Regions from separate parts of the Homo sapiens genome. Here all the other regions are reported to be linked to region 3. The links are microRNA targets in miRTarBase. Many come from high-throughput screens and were not tested one by one. Region 3 holds a microRNA gene; each other region holds the end of a gene's coding sequence.
The links. The annotated mature microRNA hsa-miR-4789-3p reads CACACAUAGCAGGUGUAUAUA and lies in region 3 at 1,448-1,468, shown strand. An mRNA with a match to its seed (bases 2 to 7 or 8) in the 3' UTR can be bound and repressed. Matches are read on the target gene's strand: a 7mer-m8 pairs with bases 2 to 8, a 7mer-A1 pairs with bases 2 to 7 and ends in A, and an 8mer does both.

Region 1: miRTarBase lists HDGFL3 as a target of hsa-miR-4789-3p. Seed matches in the 3' UTR shown: 7mer-A1 at 1,089-1,095, 8mer at 1,446-1,453, 7mer-A1 at 1,668-1,674, 8mer at 2,445-2,452 and 7mer-m8 at 3,918-3,924.
Region 2: miRTarBase lists SLC25A12 as a target of hsa-miR-4789-3p. Seed matches in the 3' UTR shown: 7mer-m8 at 1,067-1,073 and 7mer-m8 at 2,640-2,646.
Region 4: miRTarBase lists SEL1L3 as a target of hsa-miR-4789-3p. Seed matches in the 3' UTR shown: 7mer-m8 at 1,440-1,446.
Region 5: the mRNA of RSF1 is a reported target of hsa-miR-4789-3p. Seed matches in the 3' UTR shown: 7mer-A1 at 2,373-2,379 and 7mer-m8 at 3,615-3,621.
Region 6: the mRNA of LONRF3 is a reported target of hsa-miR-4789-3p. The part of its 3' UTR that is shown has no 7-base or 8-base seed match.
Region 7: miRTarBase lists GEMIN6 as a target of hsa-miR-4789-3p. Seed matches in the 3' UTR shown: 7mer-m8 at 724-730 and 7mer-m8 at 1,223-1,229.

Annotation. Positions count from the first base shown.
Region 1 is chr15:83,135,850-83,139,849 of GRCh38, reverse strand. It overlaps HDGFL3 (HDGF like 3), which reads left to right. Exons shown (of 6, transcript NM_016073.4): 6 at 575-4,000. The coding sequence ends at 580. It overlaps TM6SF1 (transmembrane 6 superfamily member 1), which reads right to left. Exons shown (of 10, transcript NM_023003.5): 10 at 2,442-3,369. The coding sequence ends at 3,178. Among named protein-coding and RNA genes, the nearest start is that of TM6SF1, 30 kb to the right of the region's middle.
Region 2 is chr2:171,782,038-171,786,135 of GRCh38, reverse strand. SLC25A12 (solute carrier family 25 member 12) reads left to right here. Exons shown (of 18, transcript NM_003705.5): 18 at 661-2,731. The coding sequence ends at 862. Among named protein-coding and RNA genes, the nearest start is that of DYNC1I2, 97 kb to the right of the region's middle.
Region 3 is chr3:175,368,143-175,372,240 of GRCh38, forward strand. MIR4789 (microRNA 4789) reads left to right here and starts at 1,398; the gene lies at 1,398-1,479. All of the region lies in intron 5 of NAALADL2 (N-acetylated alpha-linked acidic dipeptidase like 2), which reads left to right.
Region 4 is chr4:25,744,948-25,749,045 of GRCh38, reverse strand. SEL1L3 (SEL1L family member 3) reads left to right here. Exons shown (of 24, transcript NM_015187.5): 24 at 482-1,613. The coding sequence ends at 621. Among named protein-coding and RNA genes, the nearest start is that of SLC34A2, 91 kb to the right of the region's middle.
Region 5 is chr11:77,663,278-77,667,375 of GRCh38, reverse strand. RSF1 (remodeling and spacing factor 1) reads left to right here. Exons shown (of 16, transcript NM_016578.4): 16 at 1-4,098. The coding sequence ends at 459. Among named protein-coding and RNA genes, the nearest start is that of CLNS1A, 28 kb to the right of the region's middle.
Region 6 is chrX:119,017,153-119,021,250 of GRCh38, reverse strand. LONRF3 (LON peptidase N-terminal domain and ring finger 3) reads right to left here. Exons shown (of 11, transcript NM_001031855.3): 11 at 2,896-3,716. The coding sequence ends at 3,561. Among named protein-coding and RNA genes, the nearest start is that of LONRF3, 45 kb to the right of the region's middle.
Region 7 is chr2:38,781,263-38,785,262 of GRCh38, forward strand. It overlaps GEMIN6 (gem nuclear organelle associated protein 6), which reads left to right. Exons shown (of 3, transcript NM_024775.10): 3 at 255-3,740. The coding sequence ends at 630. Among named protein-coding and RNA genes, the nearest start is that of GEMIN6, 5.1 kb to the left of the region's middle.

The DNA.
Region 1 (4,000 bases), not on the chromosome of region 3:
CCATCTAAATTTTAAAAGAAATCTAGGCTTCCTCTTATTCTTTATGTTTTTTTTAAAAGCAAGAAGTCAGAGACTTTGTACATCATGATTAACTTCTACATTTGTTTGAGCTATGTGTCACAAGTAATTAAGTTATAAATATTCTGAAGATTAATTGGTGCACACTCTAAGTGCTTTTTAAATTTTACACAGCTTACCTTTCTTTCTGAAGAATGTCCTCACAAAGATAGATTATATCAATTTCTCCACTGATGATGTATTCCAGCAATAAACATAGTCCTAGAATTGTAGAATGTGCACTGCTGCACTCTGTCCTAACAGACAGTAGACAAGGTTTATAATTTTTTTCTATGGGACACTAAAAATACCCTAGGATTTCCTTTAACTTTTTGCACTGACAGGTCTAAAGCAAAGCCACAGAAGCTGCTCTTGCTCAGTAAGTATTGTTAATGCTGCAGTGCATATTAAAATTTCAGAAAACCCAATTATGTACTATCTAGGTGTGGATAGCTCTCATTGTTAGTATCCTAAATCATCTAAAGGCTTGTTTTCTTTCTTTTTTTTTTTTTTACAGACCTAACTACCATAATGAATGCTGCATATTAAGAGAAACCACAAGAAGGTTATATGTTTGGTTGTCTAATATTCTTGGATTTGATATGAACCAACACATAGTCCTTGTTGTCATTGACAGAACCCCAGTTTGTATGTACATTATTCATATTCCTCTCTGTTGTGTTTCGGGGGGAAAAGACATTTTAGCCTTTTTTAAAAGTTACTGATTTAATTTCATGTTATTTGGTTGCATGAAGTTGCCCTTAACCACTAAGGATTATCAAGATTTTTGCGCAGACTTATACATGTCTAGGATCCTTTTATCAAGGCAGTTATGATCATCGTTTTCCTGCCTTGACCCCACCATCATCAAACACTCAGTTAAATATAAATTAACATTTTTTAGATGACCACTCAACATAATGCTTAAGAATGGAATTTCCTCTCTGTGACAGAACCCAGGAATTAATTCCTAAATACATAACGTTGGTATATTGAAGACGAAATTAAAATTGTCCTTCAGTTTTGAGGCCATGTGTAAAGTTTAACCATATTGTAAAATATCTATTCCGTATTAGAAATAGCTAGTTGACAGCTTATACTTCTCAAAATTCATATTGTTATGTACACAAACTAAGTTTCTATATGTGAAGTTAGTGAGTCTTTTTGTGTTACTCCAAAATAAAGGCAATGATTTATTTTTTTCCCAGTGCCAATACAATTTTGAGCTAAGCACTCAAGGTGGATACTTTACATTTTAAAGCTGGAATCAGCAACAGCCCTATGGGAAACCAGACAAAGCATTGACTTTTAAATGTAGACTTTTAAAATAAACTGTTTTCTTTTGGAACTACAATTAGAATAGTTAATATTCATCCTTAAACCATTATTATGTGTACATTATTGTTGCTATTGTGATAATAGAGAATTTTATTTATTTTTATGCCAGCTTATATTGTGAGAACACATTTAGTCAGTTTGGGTTTTATCAATCCTGTTAATGCTTGTCCTTGGAACATCTTTCGCGTATTCACGGTTTGTAGTTGAAAAGTTTACTGTAAAAAAATCAAAAACAAAAAAATGTATTGTTTTTACAGAATAAATTTATTGGAATGTGTACTGGGAGTAAGATTTGAGGTTGTAAGCAAACTAAGTTAGTGTAATTTGGCTTCATATATGTAACGTGAGGTATTAATGTAATTCATATATTAAAGCAAAAATTGTTCACAGCAAGCTGACAATAGAATCAAGTGCAGGTGAGGGTTTTTCTTTTTCTTTCTTTTTTTTTTTTTAAACACTCTCTGGGTTTTAGATTATTTGAAAACACTGTAGGGGATGATGGGGAGATGACTACATGATTTGCTTACACTTACATATTTACCAGCCCAGTGGACCCTAGATTTTGTAATTTGATATTATCCATGCATTGATTTGTATCCCATTTTCTTTTGGTTTTCTTGATGAGAGCTAATAAAAACATGAGAAAATGTGAGCAGACCTAAAAGCCTAGGGCCGTTAATAATGATGATGGTGATGATGGCAGCTAAGGGTATGAAAGCACCAGTCCATTTATCATTCCAGGGCACAGTGAGGAGGTGGCTGTTTGTATTTTTGGTGTGTTTCTTTCATTTAGTGAATACTGATTTTCTCTAGTATACTCAACATACAATCCCAAACATGAAAAGTTCATAAAAAGATAGTAGGGATGTCGATCTAATACTTCTTCCTTAAAAGGTCCTTTTTAATTTTGAATATTTGAATGTATTTTTTAATTAATGAAATTTAATTCATCAAAAGACCTCTTCATTGCTCACACTGAAACATAAGGGGAATGTAGATGGCATTTTGAATTGGAATATACAACTCACAAATTTTCTTTAAAAGCGTTTTATGTGTATATATGAAATGTTTCAAATTTAATAAGATTTGTCTTTATAAGAGGCCAAAAATAATTTTATTAAAAATATACACAGAAATACAATAGAAATATTTCCAGCCACCAATAAAACAAATGTTCATTAAGGATAGAGATAAAGTTACTGATCCCTATTTAGCTGTTTAAATTCACACAAAAAAATTTAGTAAAAGTAATTTTCTTGAAACAGCAGCAAATAATAAACTTTCCTTGGGAAAACATTTTTCAAACAACATTTAAAAATATTCTGATGATTTGCCTTTTATATTGAGTTTAATAATGAAGCATATTCATCTTATTTGCAAAAGTTACTCCTCCAGTCTGCATTCACTGTTTTGAATTTTTTAATATGCACAGGCCATATTCTCTTTTGAATAGTTTCATTTCATGCTCACTACTGTTGGCACTAAATTGTAATTTTTTACACTTATAATTATTTTATATGTCAAACAATATTGAGATGGATGATCAAGTTTATTCACAAATGATTTTGAATATATTTCTTTAAACAAACTGTTTCTCAAGAATTTCCATTTTCCTTCAAAAAAAATTTACACAATACCATATAGCTCACACATACAGTGCAGAGCAAGAATGTACATATTCTTAAGTACTCACGTATGAGAAGAGAGTGAAATGGGACAAAATATCAGTACCAGTATAACAAAAGTTAGTAATTTAGAAAGGAGGAACATGAAGTAATATTTTTATTCCACTTTTTCTTCTGCCTTTGTTTTTATGAAGAACTCTGGTTTGTAGATACAACGATAGGCCAAGAGCTGAGGAAGAACTCCATATGCTATGTTTAATGCTAAAAAAAGGATTTTTGCTTCTTCAGGGACTCTGTAGACATAAGCAGTTCTAGCATGAAGAGATGCACCAATGTGAGAAAACTGAGCCTGTTGCATTTAAAAAAAAAAAATTGAGTAAGCATGAAACGTGTTCAGTTGGATGCATGATGAGTTCTGAATGGTTCATTCAGGCTACGTTTCTGTGCCCTCAAAACCAGTCTCACCTGCAGGCAAAATACCTTCAAACAATCCAGAGTCTTTAATGTCAGAGTCTTTCATTAAATTTAGTCCTTGATTAAATTTAGGGCCATTCTTGATATGACTGTTCAAATAAAGTAGATATTATTTAGTGTAGTTTTATCATGCCAGTTGTGTTTTTTAACCATCAAGTGCCCCTTACCGAACATTAGTGGCTCAATCTAATAGAAAAATCTGAATAAAATCTCAAATTTTTTTCTGATTTGCGTTCTGGAGATCCTGCATACAGACTCAGTTGTGGTTCACAAATTGCGTTCCAATAAAAATGAAGAAAGCGCAGAGTTTTAAAAAACAAATATTTTTAGCATAAACTATTGAAAGGGAAGCACTGGGGGGACCTCAGCTTCATTTATCAGTCTTTCATCTACTCCTTGCAGCAAGAGCTCATACCCTTTCCCTATGTGTTTTTTGTTTATTCATTTATTCATGTATTTGTTTTTTCTGCAGCTTTTAAAATATTAAGGGTTGTTTGTAAGATAAG
Region 2 (4,098 bases), not on the chromosome of region 3:
CCAAAGTTCTGGGATTACAGGCGTGAGCCACCATGCCCGGCCTATCTCTCTTTAAATAATTTAATTGATAATCTTTATGAGTCTACTACATAAAAAGTTAACTTCTAAAGTTATGTCAAAAGAAAAATATATACTTTAAAAATTACTTTCATATGTGCTAAGTGCAGAAAATTTGGAAAACCATAAAGCATAAAAGAAAAAAACCAGCCTGGGTGTGGTGGCTCACACCTCCCAGTGCTCTGGGAGGCCAAGGCAGAAGGATTCCTTAGACCAGAAGTTCGAAACCAGCTTTGGCAACATAGCAAGACCCCATCTTTACAAGAAGAAAAAAGAAAAAAATCATCCATAATCTTACTACCCAGAGAGTCTTCATATTTGAGTGTCTTTTCTTCTGACTTTTTTCCTATGGATTTGTTTATATATGTATGCAAGCATTGGAAATAAGGCCATTTCTCTTGTAAATCAAATATGTAGATAAGTTGCTGTCAAAGCAGCTATAAATCATGACTGTGGTTTCTAGTCATGCAGCACAGATGCCATGGAAATGGTTGAGAGAAACATTCTTCTTTGTGGCACATGGGTCAGACCGAAAATGTCCAGCTGTAAGCTGCGCTCATCCACCTTGAGCATGCTAACCATTGGCTTTTTTTCTGTCAACAGCAAACCCGCTGGTTCAGAACCAACACCTAAGTCACGCATTGCAGACCTTCCTCCTGCCAACCCTGATCACATCGGTGGATACAGACTCGCCACAGCCACGTTTGCAGGCATCGAAAACAAATTTGGCCTTTATCTCCCGAAATTTAAGTCTCCTAGTGTTGCTGTGGTTCAGCCAAAGGCAGCAGTGGCAGCCACTCAGTGATGAGACAACTGTTGAGTGTGGCAAAATGGCGCCTTGAAGAAAGAGGCCTAGGAGAGCAGCCCTGTAATGTATCCAGTCAGCTGCATGGTACTGACTGAGCTGAGGAGTCAAACTCTTCTTTCTGTATGACATATACATATACTTGTTTATAAAATAATCATTTGCCCAGGGAAAAAACCACAACGCTGTTTCAAGCTTTAGTCTTATGTGTTGAAATGTTTTTGTAAGCCTTGGCATGAATTAGTGTTCTAGACTCTGCTTTGCACAGCTTGCACTTACAGTGATTGTACATATTGTACATCTTTGTACAGAGACATCTTGGCACCTCATCCCAACAAATCACATTTGTAGAAATGTAATGCGGTTCTGAGTGGCTTGAAATGTACAGAATGTTTTGAAAGTGTTTTATTAAGAATCACACAAAAATAAATGTATTAAAATTAAATTCATTCTCTTATTGGTGACTTATGGAAATAAAGCATCAATATTGGATGTATTTAATTCCTAGTTTGTTTTCCATTCTGGAATAAAAAGGTATTTGCTGATAAAAGGCATAACGAGACATAGTGCTGCTACCACTGAATAAGTGATACTTTGGAAAGATGCATGCCAGTGGATGCCAGAGGACCAGGCTAATGACTTGTGTGTGCTGATGTGTTTCCATTTGTATTTAATGTGTGTAGACCCTCCTCTGTTCATCAATCAAAAAGCATTTCCTAGGCAGCTCCTCGCCTGTCAGTGTGCATATGGAAACAGGGACATCTCCATCATTACTGGCTTAGTTTTGCTTTCCTTTGACACAGTAAGGCAAAGGCCAAGCTTTCAAAAGAGTAAAGGATACTTTCACAATTTCCCTTCATATGGATATGATTCCAGTCAAAAATAAAATGCACACCAAAATGTATACATGTAGTTGGATTTTTCTTTGTAAATATACTGATAATACTTTTTGTTCTGATTGACTACTGATTGCAAATAACTCATGATCGGGTTCGCCCTTTCTTCCACCTTTATAGAAAACAGAAAAATTAGTTTTAGAAAGGGCTAGCGCAGAGTGAAGGGAGGGAAGAAGAAAGAGAAGAAAAGCTCTATATGGTGATTTAGTGGGGTCTAGGTTCTTACTTTGGAATCCAAATGCAAACTGTTCTAAAAGTCACTCATCAAGGGCGTGATTACTAATTTGGATCTAAACATAGATCTTGACAGCCACATCTACACTTTGATATGGATGTGATTTGATGTGCAGTATCAGAATTTATTTACCTTACCAAAGTGCTCTGGGAAGACATTATTGCTACTGCCAGTAAGCTGGGATATGAGAATGTATGCAAATATTTTCAAGAGGCGAGCCTGGAGACAGACCAAGTTACTTAGTATCCTGCACAGTGCTCCTCGATTGATGGCTGACAGCCCTGTGACTGCAACTGTAGGCTCCCTGGAGGCCCTCCAGGAACAAAAGAATTAGCTTTGAAAGCAAGTTATTTTCAAATGTATTAGATTGGTCTCATGGGAGTGGAACAAATAATAATACAGTTGTTTTGCTACTACCACTTGTTAGAAATATATAAGTAGTCCATGGATATGTGATTACAAAAGAATCCTATGTATGTATCTAGAGTGAGATGGGAAAGTGTCCCGCTTACCCTCCTTCTACCTCCACCACTTCCTGGCCCAGAGGTAATCACTGCTAACAGGTTACAGCATGAATATGTAGTCTGTTTTTCATAACTCTATAGAAATATATGTACATATTTATATTTTAGAAACAGGATTATGTTATGTGTGTGTTATTCTGTGTCTTGCTTTTGTTCACTTAATGTGTTTTGGATATCTTTCCATGTCAGTTTATAAAGTTTTATTTTTAATGGCTGCATAGTATTTCATTGTATGGGTTATAATACTTTTCATAAATCTTCCCTTATTGATATTTATTCATTTTTTTCACTACTGCAAACAATGCTGTAGTGAATGGCAGACATCTTTGTACACATATCTTTAGTGCATGTGAATTTCATTAGGATAGATATTTGGAATTGCAATTGAAAACTTTTAAGACAAGCTTTATGTTTTTATACATATTGCCACATTGTTCTTCAAAAAGAGTTATTAATTTACTTTCCTTTGACAGCATATGAGAATGCCTATTTCTTTGCAACCTCAGCAAAGAGGGATATTATCAGTCTTTTACATTTTCAGCAAATCATGATAGCTGATCATGGTTATTTTATTTTTCTAATTACTAGTGAGATTGAATGTCTTTTCATATTTACTGGTCATTTGTATATTTTCTTATTGTGGAATATGGACAAAGTACATGAAACATATGTATGCATGTCCACAACAGATATGTACACACATACATATATATTTTTTAACATATCATAATGTGCATACCATATGACCACCGGGTCAAGAAATAGAACATCTCCAGTACCTCAAAAGCTCCATATATGTCCCTCCCTAACACAACCCTCTGTCCACTTTAACATCATCCCTACTCTTTGCTTTGCTTTTCTTCATAGTTTTACCACCCATGTATATGTCTCTAAAGACCATATTTAGTTTCTATTTTTGGAATTTATATGAATCAAATTATACTGTACACTTTTGAGACTGGTTTCTTTTGCTAAGCATTATGAGATTCATCCTTATCATTGTATGTAGCCATAGTGTGTTTATTCCATTGTATGAATGTATTACATTACATATACTTTTTTCATTTTACTCTTGATGGACAATTTGGATTTTTTCCACTTTGGGGATATTTCAAACAGTGCTTCTATGGATATTTTGAACATGTCTTCTGGAGTTTGCATCTTTAAAAGGACATATACATAAGAGTGGAACCTAGATCATGCCAACTGTTTCCCGAAGATTCTCATACTGATTTACATTCTTCCCAGGGTGTATTGGCTTTTCCCCAGCCCCCCAGTCTGGTAGATGTATAATGGTATCATATTGTAGTTTAAATGACCATTTTCCTTATATGGAAAAAAAATATGAAAGGTGTTCATGAGGCTGATCACATTTCATATATTTTTTGACCATTTGGATTTCATCTTTGGTGAATGAAGTGTGTTAAAGTTCTCCCATTTTTCTCATGAATTTGCAGGTGGTTCTTTATATATTCTGGCTACTACTCCTTTATGAGTTGTGTTGCAGAATCTTTTCCCACTTTGTGGTTTGTCTTTTCACAATGTTTATAAATATAGTAACATTTTAATTTTAATATCTTC
Region 3 (4,098 bases):
TACGCTGGATTACATTTATTGATTTGCGTATATTGAACCAGCCTTGCATCCCAGGGATGAAGCCCACTTGATCATGGTGGATAAGCTTTTTGATGTGCTGCTGGATTCGGGTTGCCAGTATTTTATTGAGGATTTTTGCATCAATGTTCATCAAGGATATTGGTCTAAAATTCTCTTTTTTGGTTGTGTCTCTGCCTGGCTTTGGTATCAGGATGATGCTGGCCTCATAAAATGAGTTAGGGAGGTTTCCCTCTTTTTCTATTGATTGGAATAGTTTCAGAAGGAATGGTACCAGTTCCTCCTTGTACCTCTGGTAGAATTCGGCTGTGAATCCATCTGGTCCGAAAATAGTTACATTTTACAAACGAATCTCTAACACATTTTGGTATCTTTTTTTATACTTTGAAAGGACTGTAGCAGGTGTGTGTGAGTGTGTGTGTGTGTGTGTGTGTGTTTATAGCCAGTATGTATATATGTAGCAAATACGTTCATGTGCCATTTAATAATGGAGATGCTTTCTGAGAAATGCATCATTAGGTGACTTCATTGTTGAGAGAACATCATAGAGTGCACATAACACAAACACATTGTGTAGCCTCCTAAACAACTAGGTTATGTCGTATAGCTTATTACTTCTAAGCTACAAACCTGCATAGCATGTTATTGTACTGAACACTGTAGGCAATTACAATGCAGTGGTATTTGTATATCTAAACATATCTAAACACAGAAAAGGTACAGCGAAATATGATATAAAAGATTAAAAAAAATTGCCACCCCTGTATAGGGCACTTTTCATGGAACTTGTGGGAGTAGAAGTTGCTCTGGGTGGATCTGTGAATGAGCAGTGAGCAAATGTGAAGGCCTAAGACGTTACTATGCATTACTGTAGGCTTTATAAACACTGTACACTTAGGTTACACTAAATTTGTTTTAAAAATTAAGTAATTGCACTAATGTCACAATGAGAACAATGCCACTAGAGTTTTTCAGCTCCACTATAATCTATGGAACCACCCTCATGTATGTGATTTGTTCTTGAGCAAAATGTCATCATGCAGCACCTGACTGTATATATATGTAGCAAGTATGTGTGTGCCTGTGTGCGCGTGTGTATATATAAATGTTACATTTACATACACCTGATATGTGCATGTGTAATTATATATGTAACAAGTATGTGTGTGCCTGTGTGCGTGTGTGTACATATACATGTTACATTTACATACACCTGATATGTGCATGTATACATATATAGGTAACAAGTATGTGTGTGCCTGTGTGCGTGTGTGTACATATACATGTTACATTTACATACACCTGATATGTGCATGTATACATATATAGGTAACAAGTATGTGTGTGCCTGTGTGCGTGTGTGTGTATGTGTATATATACATGCTACGTATGTATACACCTGATATGTGTATGTGTAAATACATATCCACACACATAGCAGGTGTATATATAGGTAGCCTGTGTGTGTGTGAGTGCATGTGTGTGTATGTGTAGCAGGGGTTTTGTGTTAGAACCAAGAGCTTGGAACTGGTACAATGAAAATATTTTGCCTGAAAGATATGCTTAGTAAAAGTCCCAAGTTTCACACATTTTTGAGGCTCAAAGTGAAGAACTCAAAGTGAATTATTAGGTAATCATATCTACTTCTTCCTAAACCCTTCATCTGATTGTGTGCTAAAATTTAATACTAACTGATCTTTCCATCTCCATAAAATTCTTTGAGATAACAAAATCCTACATTCCGGTTTCTGAAGGATGGTATTCTGCAAATGTGAAAGTTTCCCTTAACCTCCAAAAAATAATTGGGTTAATCCAGCTACCACAAGTGTGAAATTGAGAAGCTGCTTGCTAAGATTGAATTTAATATTGTCACATGTCATCTGAGAGCTGCTTGTCTGATCATGTTGCCACTGGACAAAGTAAGCCTTACTACAAAGGATAAAAGAATGATTATTTCAATATCCAGTCATAGTTCATCATCAAACTCTGAGTAAAATGGAGAAAAAAAGACGTTTTATCTTATATGACTCTATGCATTTCTCTGGGAAGTCATTTATCTGGTTGCTATCCAGGAGAGCAAAGATAATGGGAAAAATCTTCCACTATTCTCAACTATAATTTTAAATATCAAATTTTAATAAAATAGGTTTTGGTTATTTCTTTTAAAAGCCCTCAATATAAGAAAATGAAATGTTAGAAACTTATTTTATAAAATATATTTGTGAACCATAAAACCCCATATAAAATGGAAATTATTATCACCATTAACTACTGATGCTTCTAATCTTATTCTGTAATGGTTAAAAAATGACTAGAATTTAGAGTTACTGCCAATATATGGGGGGGGGAGGGATTTTATAAAAATAGCTTTATTCATTTGCATGTTAAGCAAGAGTGTGATTACTGATGGCCGTAAGAGTCACTTGCTGCTTTAAGCTCTGCTCTGCTGCTGACTCTACATGTGTAGCTTTGAGAGGTCCTTTAGCCCCTCCAGCTTTCCACATAGGCAGGATGTGGCTATTGTACTTGATGATATGCCAAACATGCTTCTGATTCCAACATTCGATGGTTCTGTGATATTTCTACCTTATTACAAAAGACATTCACTTTAAAAGTATAAACACCGTAGTAACTTTTTTTCTTTCATTGTTTTCAATAAAAGGGTAATGGAAGTAAACTGACAAGTTTAGGAGGCTTTCAGAGCATAAAGGAGAAAGGCTGGCAGCTCTTGAGAACCTCTTTGCTTTCAGCTGAGAGCAAGTAGAGAATGCTTGCTCTCTGGCCCTGAATGTCATAACATTATGTTCAGAATCATTGAAATGTCTGACAACACTGTTGATTAAAAATGAGAATCATTAGGCCATGTCTGCCGTTATAGGATGAAGGGTAGTTTGAACAGTATGGAAAAAAACTATCCCAAAAGGATGATTTGTCTTAGACAATATTACCAAAATTTCAAATTATACTATGTATAGTAATTTGCAGTAATTCACTTTTTTTTTATATTTAGCTTCATCTTAAAAGTTCTCCTTCATTGGTAATGCTTTGAAAAATGCTGGATTTAGAATTATGAAGAGACTATCAACTAATATTATGGATGATATTATTATTATTATTATTTTTTGAGACGGAGTACTCGCTCTTTCGCCCAGGCCGGACTGCAGTGGCGCTATCTCGGCTCACTGCAAGCTCCGCCCCCCGGGTTCTCGCCGTTCTCCTGCCTCAGCCTCCTGAGTAGCTGGGATTACAGGCGCCCGCCACCGCGCCCGGCTAATTTTTTGGATTTTTAGTAGAGATGGGGTTTCACCGTGTTAGTCAAGATATGGATAATATTATTTAGAAACCATTCTGTGTGCTACAAAAGTCCTTTGAGAATGATATGAGCTGGGCACGACGGCTCATGCTTGTAATCCCAGCTCTTTGGGAGGCCAAGGCGGGTGGATCACCTGAGGTCAGGAGATCAAGAGTAGCCTGGCCAAGATGGCGAAATCCCGTCTCTACTAAAAATACAAAAATTAGCTGGGTGTGGTGCAGGGGCCTGTAATCCCAGCTACTCAGGAGGCTGAAGCAGGAGAATCACTTGAACCCAGGAGGCGGAGGTTGCAGTAAGCCAAGATCATGCCACTGCCCTCCAGCCTGGACAACTCCATCTATTAAAAAAAAAAAAAGATAACCACTAAAATGGCTATTATTCATCTTTCAAAATCTGTAATACCTGGAAGTTCTGCATGACCTTTAGGAAAACTACATCCACAAAGCGTTCCTTCTAGTTTCCTAATAAGTTTTAGAAGAAATATTGCCATTCTGAGCTAAACTAGTTCTACTTCCTTAGGGCAAATTCCTACCATAACATGAAATAGACAAATATAATTACTCTAAAAAAAGTCCAGCCATAGCATCTTAGAGTTTAAAGGAATAACCCTTAGGAGTTCACAAAATTTTTTTTCCACTGCTTCCTAGGCAGACCTCATTTAGTGTAGCTGGCGTGTTGCCCTGCAGACTTTACTGAACTGCTAGTACAGGAGTCGCTATGTTTTTAGCTAGCCCATTCAGTTTTTGTAAAGCTCCATCATTACATTT
Region 4 (4,098 bases), not on the chromosome of region 3:
TCACTGGGGCTCTAATCACTAGATCACCTGCCAGAGTAGTGGCTTTAATGACCTTAGAAAGGGTACATCATTCTACAACATCCTGCCCCTCCCCATCACTCTCCTATTCTTTCAGAAGAGTGTTGGAATCCACGACCTCTTCTGTAGGTACTGGAAGGGGCCCGAAGAATTCCCGCATATATCCAGAAAAGCCAGAAGTTTGGGGACCCATTCTTAAACTTCCTAGAATGTCCCCTTAGGAATGAGCATCGGCACTTGGAGGTGAAACTCTTGAAGGGTTTTTATTTAGAAATCAGATTGTCAGCATGTGGTGGCATCTTCTTAAACTTAGATAACGGGTCCAGAGTTGCCTGGCTAGTTAGTGTCAGGTTCATTAGACTAGATGCATCTCTCCTGGCTTGCCAGAGTCTCTAGGTGTGGTTGTACATTCTGAATGCACTGTTTTGAGTATTCAGCACCTGTTGTGCATGTGTCTCTGCAGCAAGCGATCCCCCTCCAAGACCATCCCAGGCCTCCCCAGACACTGCCACGTCCACTGCAAGTCCAGCTGTGACTCCAGCTGCAGATGCCTCTGACCAAGACCAGCCCACAGTAACTAATAACCCGGAGCCACGTGGGTGAACTGTGCACTCCAGTTCTCTCCAGATGAGAGAGAATCTTTTCAACAGCTGGTATTGGGAAGCTGGGGCCAGGGCATGATCCTGATAAACACCTTAAATGTCTTGTCAACTGGATGCAAATTTTGCAATTGGTGTCATTTTTTTTAAAGTCAAATTACAAGGAAGTACCCAGATCAGGCAGTGGTAATACCAAAGGTCATCAAACACATACAAGGAACATCTTGATCATAGGGCATGTGGGGAAGTTTACTGGGCCATCACAGACTTTTGTTCTAGTGATTGTATGTATTAGGAGTCATAGCATGCCCTACGGCAGATCTGGATTCTTATACACTAAGATGTGTCTTAAGAATCACAGTGCGTGCTTCATCCCTTTATTGAAGAACAGAAAATTATGACTACTCTACAAGGTGGATAATATTTTGGTACCTGTGCTTGCCACAGCCCTGTTCCTCAAAGCTGAATTGATAGATTTCTCTTTGACTTCCAAGACCTAGCAGTTATAAGGCACCTTGAAATAAATTGTTTGTGCCTGGAAATGCAGGGAGGGCAATAGCTTTGTAAATTGGTTTACATTTTTCTCCTTGAATTTTTCTAGGGTCCTAGTGCTTCCGAATCATTTAATGGCATTGTCGGATATCTTTTACATTTCAATTGCAATCCATGAAATTACATTTAGAAGATTCTTAGTACTTAACTGTAGTCTTCTCCATGAATTACACGTTAGAATAGACTGGCAGCAACGGAATATGCAGCAAGTAAGCCTCTAGCTTATAGTTTCATCCCTACCCCTCATGCCTGCGTGAGTCTGTACAGGGATATGTGTGTGTGTGTGTGTGTGTGTGTGTTAGAGAGGAAGAGGAAGAGCAGAATGTCTGTATACTACATGCTGCTAAGGTAGTGAATAAATCAGTAATGCAATATTGTGGGTCCAAACTACTCTTTGCACTACTTTATTTACAGTAGTAAATAAAATTATTTTTATACAATTGACTACCAGAAAGTGGTTTTTTTTCCCCTTTTTTATAATTACTGTCACCATATAAAGTCTAAAGGTCCATATATTCTCCTTGAGGAGGGAAAAAAGAAAAGTCCTCCTGGTGAGAGGGCTTATTTTTCATAACCCATTAATATTTGTGGATAGGAAGGTGGCAGGAGGCTTCTCTCCAGGAATCCTGAGCTCAGGTCTGGCCTTAGAATGTTCGCACAGTATCAGACATTGTTTCAGGGCTTTGTGCTGCTCTGAGCCTGGGCTCTATGTTCATTCCAGGCTAAGCTTGTAGTTCATCCTCCTCCTTCTCCTATGAGTGTTGCTCTTGTTTTAGCAAATGTTGTCCCTCCTATTTGCAAAAAAGCCAGAGATTGAAGGCTGACAGTCCTGGATTCAAATTCTGGTCCTGTAACTGACAAGCTCAGTAATCTTAGGTGAGTGATTAACCTTCTCTAAGTCTCAGATTCCCATACTATAAAATGGGGCGATGAAAACTACCTCTTGGGATTTTTATGAGGCTTACACGAGATAATATATGTAAAGCCTACAGGATAGAGTCTTGTATTAGGTCATTCTTGCATTGCTATAACGAAATACTTGAGACAGGGTAATTTATAAAGAAAAGAGGTTTTATTGGCTCAGAGTCCTGTAGGCTGTACAGGAAACAAGGCGCTGACAGCTATTTGACTTCTGGGAAGGTCTCAGGAAACTTTCAATCATGGCAGAAGGCGAAGGAGAAGCAGACATGTCTTACGTGGCTAGAGCAGGAGCAAGAGAGACTGAGGCAGGTGCCACAGACTTCTATTTATTTTATTTTTGTTTCTCTCTATAGATAGAGATCTATATCTATCTATATATAGAAAGAATATATATATTTAAATATATACATTTGAATATATATATTTAAATATATATATATATATATATTTAGATAATATTGCTCTGTCGCCCAGGCTGGAGTGCAGTGGCACGATCTCGGCTCACTGCAACCTCCCCCTCCTAGGTTCTGGTGCCTCAGCCTCCGAGTAGCAGGGACTACAAGCATGTGCCACCATGCTTAGCTAATTTTTTGTATTTCTAGTAGAAACAGTGTTTTGCCATGTTGCCCAGGCTGGTCTTGAATTCCTGAGCTCGGGCAATCCGCCTGCCTCAGCCTCCCAAAGTGCTGGGATTATAGGCGTGAGTCACCGCGCCTGGCCTATTATATGCTTTTTTATTTTTATTTTTTATATTTTTTGCCACACACTTTTAAACAACCTGCTCTCATGGGAGCTCACTATCATGAGGACAGCATCAACAGGACGGTGCTAAACCATTCATGAGAAATCCATCCCCATTATCCAATCACCTCCTGCCAAGGCCCACCTCCAACATGGGGGATTACATTTCAACACTGAGATTTGAGCAAAGCAAATATCCAAACTATATCAGGTCCTAAATATGGTAGGTCATTATTTTTATAACATAAGAAAGAGCAGTCTGAGGGGCCAGAGAGTGACTCTGCTCTGCTGAGATCCTCTCTCCATGGCAAACACACCCATTTCCAATCTGTTGGGAACATGAGCTGCTGACTGCTCACAGCCACACGCCACACTGGGAATTGCCCTAAGCTGCTGGGATCTGCCCAAGGGCATACCCTTGCAAGAGCAGCCCGTGGCCAGTGGCTCCTTGATGTAGGCAGAGTTTCTCAATCTCAGCACTATGGACATTTGAGCTGGATGGTTCTTTGTTGTGGGGCAGGGTTGTCTTGTGTATTGTAGATGCTAAACAGCATCTCTGGCCTCTAATGAATGCTGCAGTGGGCACTCATCACCCCTGCTTCCCAGTGTGACAGCCAAACACCTCCTTGGGAGCAAAATCACACTCCCTTCACCTTGAGAATGACTGATGTAGGAAAACAAAGGTCCCTTGCCTCAATTTGGAACAGTGCTGAACGGCAGGGCATCCCAGCTCCAAAACTCTACGTTGGTTGCAACCTCACTGAATGCAGCTTCTCACTCTGCTCAATTCTGCCTTCCTCACTTTCTTTTTTTTTTTTTTGAGACTGAGTCTCGCTCTGTCACCCAAACTGGAGGACAGTGGCATGATCTTGGCTCACTGCATCCTCTGCCTCCCAGGCTCAAGAGATTTTCCAGCCTCAGCCTCCCAAGTAGCTGGGATTACAGGCATGTGCCACCATGCCCACCTAATTTTTGTATTTTTCATAAAGGTGGGTTTTCGCCATGTTGGCTAAGCTGGGCTTGAACTCCTGACCTCAAGTGATCCATCCACCACAGCCTCCCAAAGTGCTGGGATTACAGGTTTGAGCCACCACGCCTGGCCTTTCCTCGTGTTCTTATAGGATTTTCCAACACTGATCCCCAGAAATCTTCACACCCAACTCTGTACCTCAATTTCTTAAAAAACAAACAAACAAACAAAAACCCTAATGTATTAGTTTGCTGGGGCTGCCATAACCAAGTACCAAATACTGGGTAGCTTGAACAA
Region 5 (4,098 bases), not on the chromosome of region 3:
GAAGAGGAAGGCAAACCATCCCGCAAACGGCTACACCGGATTGAGACGGATGAGGAGGAGAGTTGTGACAATGCTCATGGAGATGCAAATCAGCCTGCCCGTGACAGCCAGCCTAGGGTCCTGCCCTCAGAACAAGAGAGCACCAAGAAGCCCTACCGGATAGAAAGTGATGAGGAAGAGGACTTTGAAAATGTAGGCAAAGTGGGGAGCCCATTGGACTATAGCTTAGTGGACTTACCTTCAACCAATGGACAGAGCCCTGGCAAAGCCATTGAGAACTTGATTGGCAAGCCTACTGAGAAGTCTCAGACCCCCAAGGACAACAGCACAGCCAGTGCAAGCCTAGCCTCCAATGGGACAAGTGGTGGGCAGGAGGCAGGAGCACCAGAAGAGGAGGAAGATGAGCTTTTGAGAGTGACTGACCTTGTTGATTATGTCTGTAACAGTGAACAGTTATAAGACTTTTTTTCCATTTTTGTGCTAATTTATTCCACGGTAGCTCTCACACCAGCGGGCCAGTTATTAAAAGCTGTTTAATTTTTCCTAGAAAACTCCACTACAGAATGACTTTTAGAAGAAAAATTTCAACAAATCCTGAAGTCTTTCTGTGAAGTGACCAGTTCTGAACTTTGAAGATAAATAATTGCTGTAAATTCCTTTTGATTTTCTTTTTCCAGGTTCATGGTCCTTGGTAATTTCATTCATGGAAAAAAATCTTATTATAATAACAACAAAGATTTGTATATTTTTGACTTTATATTTCCTGAGCTCTCCTGACTTTGTGAAAAAGGGTGGATGAAAATGCATTCCGAATCTGTGAGGGCCCAAAACAGAATTTAGGGGTGGGTGAAAGCACTTGTGCTTTAGCTTTTTCATATTAAATATATATTATATTTAAACATTCATGGCATAGATGATGATTTACAGACAATTTAAAAGTTCAAGTCTGTACTGTTACAGTTTGAGAATTGTAGATAACATCATACATAAGTCATTTAGTAACAGCCTTTGTGAAATGAACTTGTTTACTATTGGAGATAACCACACTTAATAAAGAAGAGACAGTGAAAGTACCATCATAATTAACCTAAATTTTTGTTATAGCAGAGTTTCTTGTTTAAAAAAAAATAAAATCATCTGAAAAGCATTTGTACAGTAAAATGTATAATGAAGCTTTGCCAACCAGACTGTGCTAGCAACAAATTTTTTTAAATAAGCTTTATGCAGTGGTAATAAGGTGGCCTCAAATATATTGTGTCTGATGGAGAGTTATTAGTGAAATGAATGTGGTCTTTCTTAAGGCCTGGGTGGACTGTAAACTTTGCCAATAGTATAACTCTTGTCTTCTGGCCACTTGATGTTTAAATATCTGAAATATCATTTTGAAAAAAATACATCTATATATAACATACATGAAGAGATGCTAAGCTGACAGTGATATTTTAGCACATTTGAAGACTGGGAAGAGATTTTCAGGTGAATTTTAACTGGTCTATTCTTGCCCTTAGTATCTACTTCAAATTGAAGTCTACAAACAAAGCAGTTCCTTTGGGAGGTTTTTAGTTTGAGTTTTAGCGTGTGTGTGTGTTTGTGTGTGTGCGTGTGCGTGTGTGTGTGTGTTGGAATTTCCTATCTGCCTGGATATATTAGCAGAGTTTGAATGTAGTTTTGGCCTTTGGCCATTAGACTTCTATTAAAATTCATTAATAGTCATACAACCAACATAGAGTTGAATGAGAACTGCCGATGTAATTAATAGGCATGACATCCATTTCAAACATCTCAACACTTTAAAGAAAAGCCCTTTGTTTCAAGAAAAAAGGGTTTGTAACTAACTAAATACCTAACATGTAATTGACACTAAAATATGAACTTTGTCTTATTTAGTTTCTGTTATAGCTGTAAAATTTCAGGCAGAGCCATAACATTGTACAGAGTGTAGCACTTGTGATTAAACCTAGCCTGTTAAATCCTGAAACCTTCAACCATTACTTCTGTGAATACTTTAGCCCTGGGATTTGGGTTTTTCTGTTCCGGTGTTGTGTCTGTTGCCGGCAATGGACACACCATATCTGCTGCTGGCCCAAGGAACGTCATTAATTTTTCTTTCCAAATTAAGTATTATGTGCTAGTCAGTGTATAGTAAAGCACTTCTCTTTTTTATTACTAAAAAGCTGGCATTAGATTTGCATTATAAATACCTCTCTAGGAACTTTATACTCCTTTTCCTTCTTCAACAGGTATTGCCCTTAAATCTTATCTTTTGGCCTTGAAAGTTTATAGCTATTGTTTTTCAGTTGTTCGTTGTTTTGTTTTGTTTCACTTTAGTTCTGTAGTACCTGCCCATTAATATTTTTGCTTTGATTCTAGCAATGTGTATGTATCTGTATAAAAAATAAAATAATGAAAGCAACCTAAAAATAGGATGCACCAATAGCATGTGGTTCCAAGTAAGTTGTGATTTTTATTTTGAGACAGTGTTCCACTGGAAGGGAGGGAAGGGCTTACATTCACAGACAGTAAAGCAGGGCTGTGTAAGGAGCTACATTTACTTAACAGTCTCCTTTCCAGCTAGGTTTGTTTTATTTATTTGCAAGTCAGCTAAGAATTAACCTTTTAAACCATCTAAAACAGGCAAGCAATATAAAGATTTCTACTAGTGCAAGGTAAGTGGTTTGAATATACAAGTGCCCTTTCCTGCCACCCAGTCTCACTACCGTTTTAGTCCTGCAGCTGGGTAAAGCCACTATTGTGTGGAAACTCTCCCATGTGCCCTGTCTCTACCTCTGGACACACCAGCTCCTTCTTCCACCTATTCTATTCCTCAGTTAAGCCAAGTGATCAGAAGTAGTATTAAATGGGTAGATAATTTTAACAGGATGCCTAATGTGAAATAAGGAGTTATTTTTACTCTTCTACTATAGAAAGCCTAAGGTAATTCTTACCATCTCAAAGACTGAGTATTCCATTTAGGTTTGGAGACCACTTGTGCTGTGCTGCCTGATATTTACCAAACTTGAATAAGTGTTCGTCAACTTGATAGTGAATGTACCCCTTCTCACCTTATATTTTGATTAAATCAATTAACTATAGGTCATCTACCAAGAATGTAATCCAAGCGGTTGATAAAACATTATTAGGCAGATAGATTATTGATTATTAAATTTTGAGCAGTGCAAAAACGGTTTTGCTGCTTGGAGTTCAGATTCAGTCCCTCAAAGAGTTTATGATCACTGAAATACACTCTGAAGGTATTCTGAAGAAGTTAAAAAATTTTAGAAAACGAAATGTTCTGTATACAAAGACAATACAGTCACTACGAACTGCAGAAAGTATAGGAAAGCAGTAATTGATGTAGAGTTTAGACAGTCTTGGATCTTTTTTAGAGCACTAACCATGGATTTAGACTCAAAATAGCTGCTACATAATAGAGCCCTTTAATAATTTAAACCCCCCTTGTTGAAATACAAGTTGGACTCCCAGTGTCAAACTCTAGACTGTAGCTAATGTATTAAAGGGAGATGTAGATTAATATTCAGTATATTTAGTTTGCAATTTCTGAAAAGGTTTGAAAACTAGTCAGCTTTTCACACAGCAGAAGCTTTGAACTGAAATATGTGTGAAAAGGACGCAGACTGAAAACGTTTTGGTTTTGTACATCAGTGCTGATGAAATTAGTGTAAAACATTTTCCATCATTGGCACATTACTGCAAAATGATGGCAGAGATATTTTCAAGAATGTACATCAAGTTATATTTCCTTGACATCCTTTTTTCAATTGGTCAAGGTTACAGATTCAGAGGATAAAGGGTAGTTTCATTTAGAATAAATTCATGTCTACTGGCAATCTATATATAAAAGTGACCTGCCCAAGAACCAAAAACTTTAAATGCTAATGAAGCTTTTGAAAAATAATTTTTAAACAAATTAATTTTAAAAGGGTGTTACACGTACCCAGTTTTTACTTTTTAGTTGATGAAACCCATCCTATAATATACATTTGAGCAAAGTACACATATTAAGAAAAACATGGACATTTACTTGTTTAATAGTCAAAATGATGAGGAAATGTTAGCTGTTTTTAAGTGGGACTGGTG
Region 6 (4,098 bases), not on the chromosome of region 3:
TTCATTCCCAAGCTGTGCAGCAAAACCAATTTCCCAGTGTAAAAATGTTCAAGACCAATTGATTACCTCGTTAAGGTACATCCCAAAGAAAGCCAAAGCTTAGCCTTGCATCCTGCCTTGCAACTAGACAAAATATTTAACATAGTGGAGGCTCAGTTTTCTCATTCATAATATGGGGATAATAACTGCTCTCGCAGGGTTGGTATGAGAAATAAATGATGTAATGAGCTCAGGTATGTGAGATCACTTGGCTCAGTACCTGGTACATGGGGATCTCAGTACATTTTTTGTTGAATCTGTTACTTTGGGCAACATAAAGAAATACTATCAACTAAGAACAGAAGTCACAGATTGTAAACTCTCATCATCTGGGATGGGTAAGGTTCTCAATACATTTTGGAGAACAGGGAGTGAAAAGTTGGTTATTCTAATGGAGCTAGAACTTAAGGCTTCCATTCTATCAGAAATCCTAGGCTGGGTGCGGTGGCTCACACCCACGCCCGTAATCCCAGCACTTTGGGAGGCCCAGGCAGATGGATCACCTGAGGTCAGGAGTTCGAGACTAGCTTGACCAACATGGTGAAACCCCATCTCTACTAAAACTACAAAAATTAGCCAGGCGTGGTGGTGCGTGCCTGTAATCCCAGCTACTTGGGGGGCTGAGACAAGGGAATCACTTGAACCTGGGAGGCGGAGGTTGCAGTGAACTGAGATCGAGCCACTGCACTCCAGCCTGGGTGACAGAGTGAGACTCAGACTCGCACACACACACACACACACAAAAGAAAGAAAGGAAAGGAAAGGAAAGGAAAAAGAAAGGAAGGAAGGAAGGGAGGGAAAGAGAGAGAGAGGGAGGGAGGGAGGGAACAAAAGAAAAAGAAAGGAAGGAAGGAAGGAAGAAAGAAATCCTAGACCTACATAGGGCACTACCTTCTAGCCCTTATTGAAGCAGGAAAAAAATTTCTGGTATAGGATTGATCCCTATCTCTGACCCTCATTTGTTCTCCAGTTATTTCACTTTCACACACATTTAATTCCCAAAAGAATTATCTGTAAATCATCAAATTATGGGTCCAAAAATCAGTGGTATGTATTCCCCCAACTAAGTTTAAAGGGGTTTCAAGTGGATATTGTGTGTAAAGGCAGTGTTTTATACAAATGTAGGCCCTTGATGATATTCTATAACTATGACTAATCTAATAGTAGCTATTATTTCTTGAGTGCATTCTAGGTGTGAGACACTGTGCTAATTGATTTACACATTATCTCATTTAATTTTCGTAACAACCCTATATGCAGAACTTATCACTATCATTTCATAGATTAGAAAACTGAGGGTTGGCAAAAGTTAAATCAATTGCCAAAAATAATATATCTAATAAGTAGAGAAGCTTAGGGCCTTTTTCTTTGTTGCATTTACACTAGATAACCAGAAACTATTAGGATTGTGTTATGACCACATGGTCTGGGAACCAGGTGGGAGGGGGAGTCTTTTCTGCTCCCTGAGCTTTGTGGAGTTTGCTTGCGCAGAAATAATGCCTATACTTCCGCCTATTTCTGTTCTTCACCTGCCCAGACTAGCTCCAAACATCAAATCTGATAAACACAACACTCTGGCAACATAATGTCCATTAAGTGAGTGCAGAAAAGACCATCTGGTTTCTGCTTACATGCATCTTTTTTATGTTGTCTGGATCATCTCATTCTCCCTTTCCTGTTTCTAGCTACAGGTGGTGATGGGAGAAGTAAGAATTACACTCTCACCTTAACAGAGTGATGGGCTGTGAATGAATGATGCAAAAATCATTCACTGTCCAAAATCACATGGTATAATTTGCATGAAGGTACTAATGGCACAATTCACTTCCTCCCTGCTCTAATCGTTTCACTCTGCCATTATAACACTCCCATACTTGTGGTACTTTACAGGCTGTCCTGCCACTGAAGGACTCAAACTAGCACTAAGCAAGCTAAATCAGGGCTTACTCTTACTCCTCACCCTATATTCTCCCCATACATTGAAATATTTCACCCATGCAACTAGAAGCAAAGGCAGTACTTAGGTAAAATAATAGATTATCTGGTTCCCTTTTTTTTTTTTTTTTTTTTTTTTTGAGACGCAGGTTTGCTCGTTGCCCAGGCTGGAGTGCAGTGGTGCAATCTCGGCTCACTGCAACCTCCATCTCCCAGGTTCATGTGATTCTCCTGCCTCAGCCTCCCAAGTAGCTGGGATTACAGGCATACACCACCAAGCCTGGCTAATTTTGTATCCATTTTTAGTAGAGACAGGGTTTCATCATGTTAGTTAGGCTGCTCTCGAACTCCTGACCTCAAGTGATCCGCCTGCCTCGGCCTCCCAAAGTGCTGGGATTACAGGCGTGAGCCACCGTGCCCGGCCATCTGGTTCCTTTAAAAAGATTTTTATAGGGTTCTACTCTATTTGTCTTATTTACATTTTAATAATAAAAAGTCCTTATCAAGTGTTTCTGTCCAGGTCTTGATCCTCAGAACCCCGGGGAGAGGTGGGTTATGGAGGCTAGTTGGGCATGACTGTGATGTGCTAAACTGAACACCATTTCCTCTGAAGAGTTAATTATGATCCTGCCCAAAATCCGATTCCTAACTGCACTGGGGAAAAATTAGATACACGTACAATTAGATTGCTGAAGTAAATGCCTATAATAAAAATAATTCTTTCAGCTTTGTTCTGTATTACACACAGAAAATGAATTATTTTACTTTACCTTGGCATATACCATAATCTAGGCCAAATCCCTTAAGTATTTTATATTGTTTAGTTCAAACTGAAAAAAAAAAGTGGACTCTGAAGACAGATGATCTTAGCATCATTCTGAACTTCTTTTAAGCATCCATTTGGATAGATACGGAAATGGTCTAAGAACTAGTGTCATTGTAGTAAAAAAAAGATAAAAGCAAAAACTGCACACTTCTAGTATTGTTATTTCCCCCTAGGTACATGGTAAACCACATCAATAAATAAAGCAATGGACTTTTCAGCAATGTACGCTTAAATAGTTACAAACATACATGTAGAAAAAAGGATACAGTAGTGCAAAAAATAAATTATTAAAACAGAAAGAAGTATGAACATTATTTTACACAATGCTCTATAAAACCTGAACCATTTGGAATGAGACCTCAAGTCAGTGAAATTATACAGCAACATTATTAGTATCTTTGTTTTCACATTTCAACCACACAGTCATTGATCTATGAAAGAAAGAATATTAAAGCAAAACCACTTTAAACTTTTGGAAATTTTAATGTTAAAATCAAATTATGTTTTTCTGGGCTCTTAAACACCTCTGCTGTTTATGTAGTTATGCAGCATGTCAAGAAGCATCTTAAGACAGAAAGTTTCAAATAGGTCACATTCTTTTGGTCTTTCTACTCAATTTCTCTCTGTGATCAACAGCAGGCTGATGCCTCTGTTTGACACCCCCTTCTGTTAAGATATTATTGCAATTAGATATATTTACAAGAAGACTCCCCCCGACGGCAGTGGGGAAGGTGGGAGCTCCTCTTCGGCAATCCACTCACTAGTTTTGGTTTCGGGATATGAAGGCCAGGACTCGTCGAATACCATTCAGTCTGTCCTTTAAGGACCTCATTGCTAGGAAGGGGAGCTGAGCTCGGCTTTCCAAGGGAAGAACTGCTAACATCCACCAGCACCAGGCTGGGCCATTCGGGTTCATCTGCAACAGAGAAACACAATGGAGTCATCCTATTCCCATCCAAGAACATCAGTCTGCAGAGTTCCAAATGCTCAAGGTAAAGACCCCAGGTAGAACAACTCCATGTGGCAGATTGCTAATTGACCCTATATCTATTTTCCCCCTTATTTTAGCAGGGCATATAGCCACCCAGAAAAAAGACTGCATTTCTCAGCTTCCCTTGCAGCTAGGTGAGGCCATGAGACAAAGTTCTGGCTAATGAGATGTAAAGGGAAGTGATATGTGTAACCTCTTGGTCATGCTCTGGGAAAGAAGCATATGCCCTCTGCCTTCCTCTTTCTCTCCCTTTCCCCTAGCTAGAACATGGACGTGGTGAGGATCAGCCTTTCTCAATCAAGAGGAT
Region 7 (4,000 bases), not on the chromosome of region 3:
TGGCTACCCTGCCTTCTTTTCTAATACACATTTAAGGCATTCATAACTTGTTTAATCCTTTAACTGTATCCCACAATGATTGGCTGTAGGCTGGGCAAAAAGTTTACCTATTTAGGATCCTTAGTGAATGTTTGTTGAATAAATGGAAGCATTCATTGGTGACAGGATTAATTTCAAACAGAGTAGAGTGTCATCTATTATTTTAGTGACCTACTTGGGTTGATGATGCCTCTAAACTTACTTTTCCTCCAAAGTATTGTCCTTGTGAACTTCCTTGAAGATGGCAGCATGTCTGTGACCGGAATTATGGGACATGCTGTGCAGACTGTTGAAACTATGAATGAAGGGGACCATAGAGTGAGGGAGAAGCTGATGCATTTGTTCACGTCTGGAGACTGCAAAGCATACAGCCCAGAGGATCTGGAAGAGAGAAAGAACAGCCTAAAGAAATGGCTTGAGAAGAACCACATCCCCATCACTGAACAGGGAGACGCTCCAAGGACTCTCTGTGTGGCTGGGGTCCTGACTATAGACCCACCATATGGTCCAGAAAATTGCAGCAGCTCTAATGAGATTATTCTGTCGCGTGTTCAGGATCTTATTGAAGGACATCTTACAGCTTCCCAATGAGAGGCCAGGAAGTGTGAACATACTGATAGAAAAAGACTATATTTTATCCCTCATAAAATGTTTTAAATGTAAATGTACATGACTGTGTGTGTGTATGTGTGTGTGTGTATAATTCTTTGTTGTTTTGGTAAAATCAGAGGAGTGGGTTATAAGTGCTAATTTCCTTGGGAAATTAATGAACTAGGGCAAGTATAGCATCCCATGCATAAAATTAGCACAGGGACATCAGAATTGTATGGGTCTTCTTTTTTCTTTTTTTCTTTTTTTTTTGAGATGGAGTCTCGCTCTGTTGCCAGGTTTGAGTGCAGTGGCGCAATCTCAGCTCAGTGCAACCTCCGCCTCCCAGGTTCAACCGATTCCCCTGCCTCAGCCTCTCGAGTAGCTGGGACTACAGGTGCACGCCACCACTCCCAGCTAATTTTTTGTATTTTAGTAGAGATGGGGTTTCACCTGTATGGGTCTTTTCTTGTGATGGGGTTACACCCCCATTTTTGTTAGGCAAGAAAAGCATTTGGAAAAAAATGTAACATGTTAGATTCAATATAAAATATTATGGTAAGATCATGGTCTTGTTAAGTCTCTTCACTAACTGTATGTGTCTGTTTTTAAAAGATGTGTCTTGGTGGGGCGCGGTGGCTCACGCCTGTAATCCCAGCACTTTGGGAGGCCGAGGCAGGTGGATCATGAGGTCAGGAGATCGAGACCATCCTGGCTAACACGGTGAAACCCCTTCTCTACTAAAAATACAAAAAAAATTAGCCGGGCGTGGTGGCAGGTGCCTGTAGTCCCAGCTACTCAGGAGGCTGAGGCAGGAGAATGGCATGAACCCGGGAGGCAGAGCTTGCAGTGAGCCGAGATCGCGCCACTGCACTCTAGCCTGGGTGACAGAGCGAGACTCCGTCTCAAAAAAAAAAAAAAAAATTATTGGAACACAGCATTACCTATTGAATTACAGTTTTCTGGTTTTTTTGTGGAGTTTTTGTTTTGGTTTTTGAGATGGAGTTTCACTCTTGTTCCCCAGGCTGGAGTGTAATAGTGCAATCTCGGCTTACCACAACCTCTGCCTCCCAGGTTCAAGCAATTCTCCTGCCTCAGCCTCCTGAGTAGCTGGTATTACAGGCATGCACCATCACGCCCCACTAATTTTGTATTTTTTTAGTAGAGACGGGGTTTTTCCATGTTGGTCAGGCTGGTCTCAAACTCCCGACCTCAGGTGATCCGCCCGCCTCGGCCTCCCAAAGTTCTGGGATTACAGGTGTGAGCCACCGTGCCCGGCTGTTTTTTGTGGGTTTTTTGTTTGTTTGTTTGTTTTTGAGACAGAGTCTTGCTCTGTCACTCAGGCTGGAGTGCAGTGGCACAATCTCGGCTCACTGCAACCTCTGCCTCCTGAGTTCAAGCCATTCTCCTGCCTCAGCCCCCTCAGTAGCTGGGATTACCAGGCACATAGCACCATGCCCAGCTAATGTTTGTATTTTTAGTAGAGACAGGGTTTCACCATGTTGACCAGGCTGGTCTTGAACTCCTGACCTCATGATCTGCCTGCCGTGGCCTCCCAAAGTGCTGGGATTATAGGCATGAGAGCCTCCGTGCCTGGCTTTTTTTTTTTTTTTTTTTTTTTAAAAGAGGGTCTTGATATGTTGCCCAGGCTTGTCTTCAACTCCTGGGTTCAAGTGATCCTTCCACCTTGGCCTCCCAAAGTGCTGGGAATATAGGTGTGAGCTGCCATGTCCAGCTGTAAGAAATATTTTAAAATATTTAAGCTTCAGGGCCTTTGAATACAGGCCCTGATAACATAGCTATTTTCCTGCATAGTTGTCTAATAACAAGATGGTATAGCCCAGTGCTTCTTGCACTTTAGCAAGCATCAGAATCAGCAAATATTTAGGTTTCAGGGCCTTTGAATACAGTCTGATAACACAGCTATTTTCCTGCATAGTTGTCTAATAACAAGATGGTATAGTCCAGTGCTTCCTGCATGTTGGCAAGCATCAGAATCAGCTGCAGGGCTTTTCAAAACAGATTGCTGGACCCTCCTCCCAACAGATTCTGATTCAGTAGTTCTAGTTGGGACCCAGGAATTTGCATTTCCAACAGACTCCCAGATAATGATGTTACCGTTCCCAGACCACACTTGCAGAAGCAGTTCAGAAACTTCAGGGGAACAGAAAGTTCCTCCCTCACGGCTTCAAAGTTCCATGATCCTGAAAGCAAAATTTAGCACACATCACCTTTCTCCTAGTGGCTAAGACTCTCCTGTTCAAACCCTGGATGTCTTCAGAAAGCAAATAGAAGGGGAATATGAACAGACTGAAGTCAGCAAGGAAATGACTGACAAGATGAGGGAGGCCTTTGAAAAGGAAGAAGCCAGCTGGGCGCGGTGGCTCACGCCTGTAATCCCAGCACTTTGGGAGGCCTAGGCGGGCCGATCACTTGAGGCCAGGATTTGTGACCAACCTGGGCAACATGGTGAAACCCTGTCTCTACTAAAAAAAAAAAAAATAGCTGGGTGTGGTGGTGAGCGCCTATAATCTCAGCTACTCAGGAGGCTGAGGCACTCGCTTGAATCTGGGAGGTGGAGGTTGCAGTGAGCCGAGATTGTACGCATTCCAGCTTGGGCAGCAGAACGAGACTCTGTCTCAAAAAAAAAAAAAAAGCCACGTAGGAAATTATCCACAGCATCAATTGGACTTGATCTTGGCTCAGGGACCAGGCCCGGTGCCTTGATATTGGTAGATTTATTTGCCATCAGACTAATGAGCTGGGGACATTGACTGTTTCCTGGCAACTGAGTCCTCTGATTGTGTAAACAATTTGCCTGCAAACAAAACCTGAGTGCTTGAAAGGGTAAGTGATCCTGATCTGCCATAGAAACCTTCATGCTTAGGGAGTTTCCCTAGCTAATTCCTCAGCTAAGATTCTCCCCAGGAGTTTCACTCACCTGTTTCCAGTGCCTCCTTTGGGCTGTCAGCATCTGTGATTCCACATTCCCCAGAGGGAGATTCCTCCCCAAAGCTGGTTGTATTTACTGCCAGTCCTGGGCTGTAGCCAGGGCAGTCTTTGAACACATTATCAAGAATACTTTTTAAAATAAAAGTCTGTTTCGACTTCCACTGTGTATTTTTTGTCTCCTTGGAAGCAAAGTTTCCACTGTTTGCACTGATTTCTCACCATCCCCTTTTCATCTGATTTCCTAAGTCCACTTTTTTCTTCTAAAGATACTGAAGTTGATTTTTCCATGCACTTAGTTTTTTTTAAGTGACATTTAAAACATTCAATCAATTGTTTTAATTTGCTGAGAATTGATGAAAATTTCACAATCCTTTTTTTTTTTTTTTATAAGAGTCAAGGTCTTGCTCTGTCACCCAGGCTG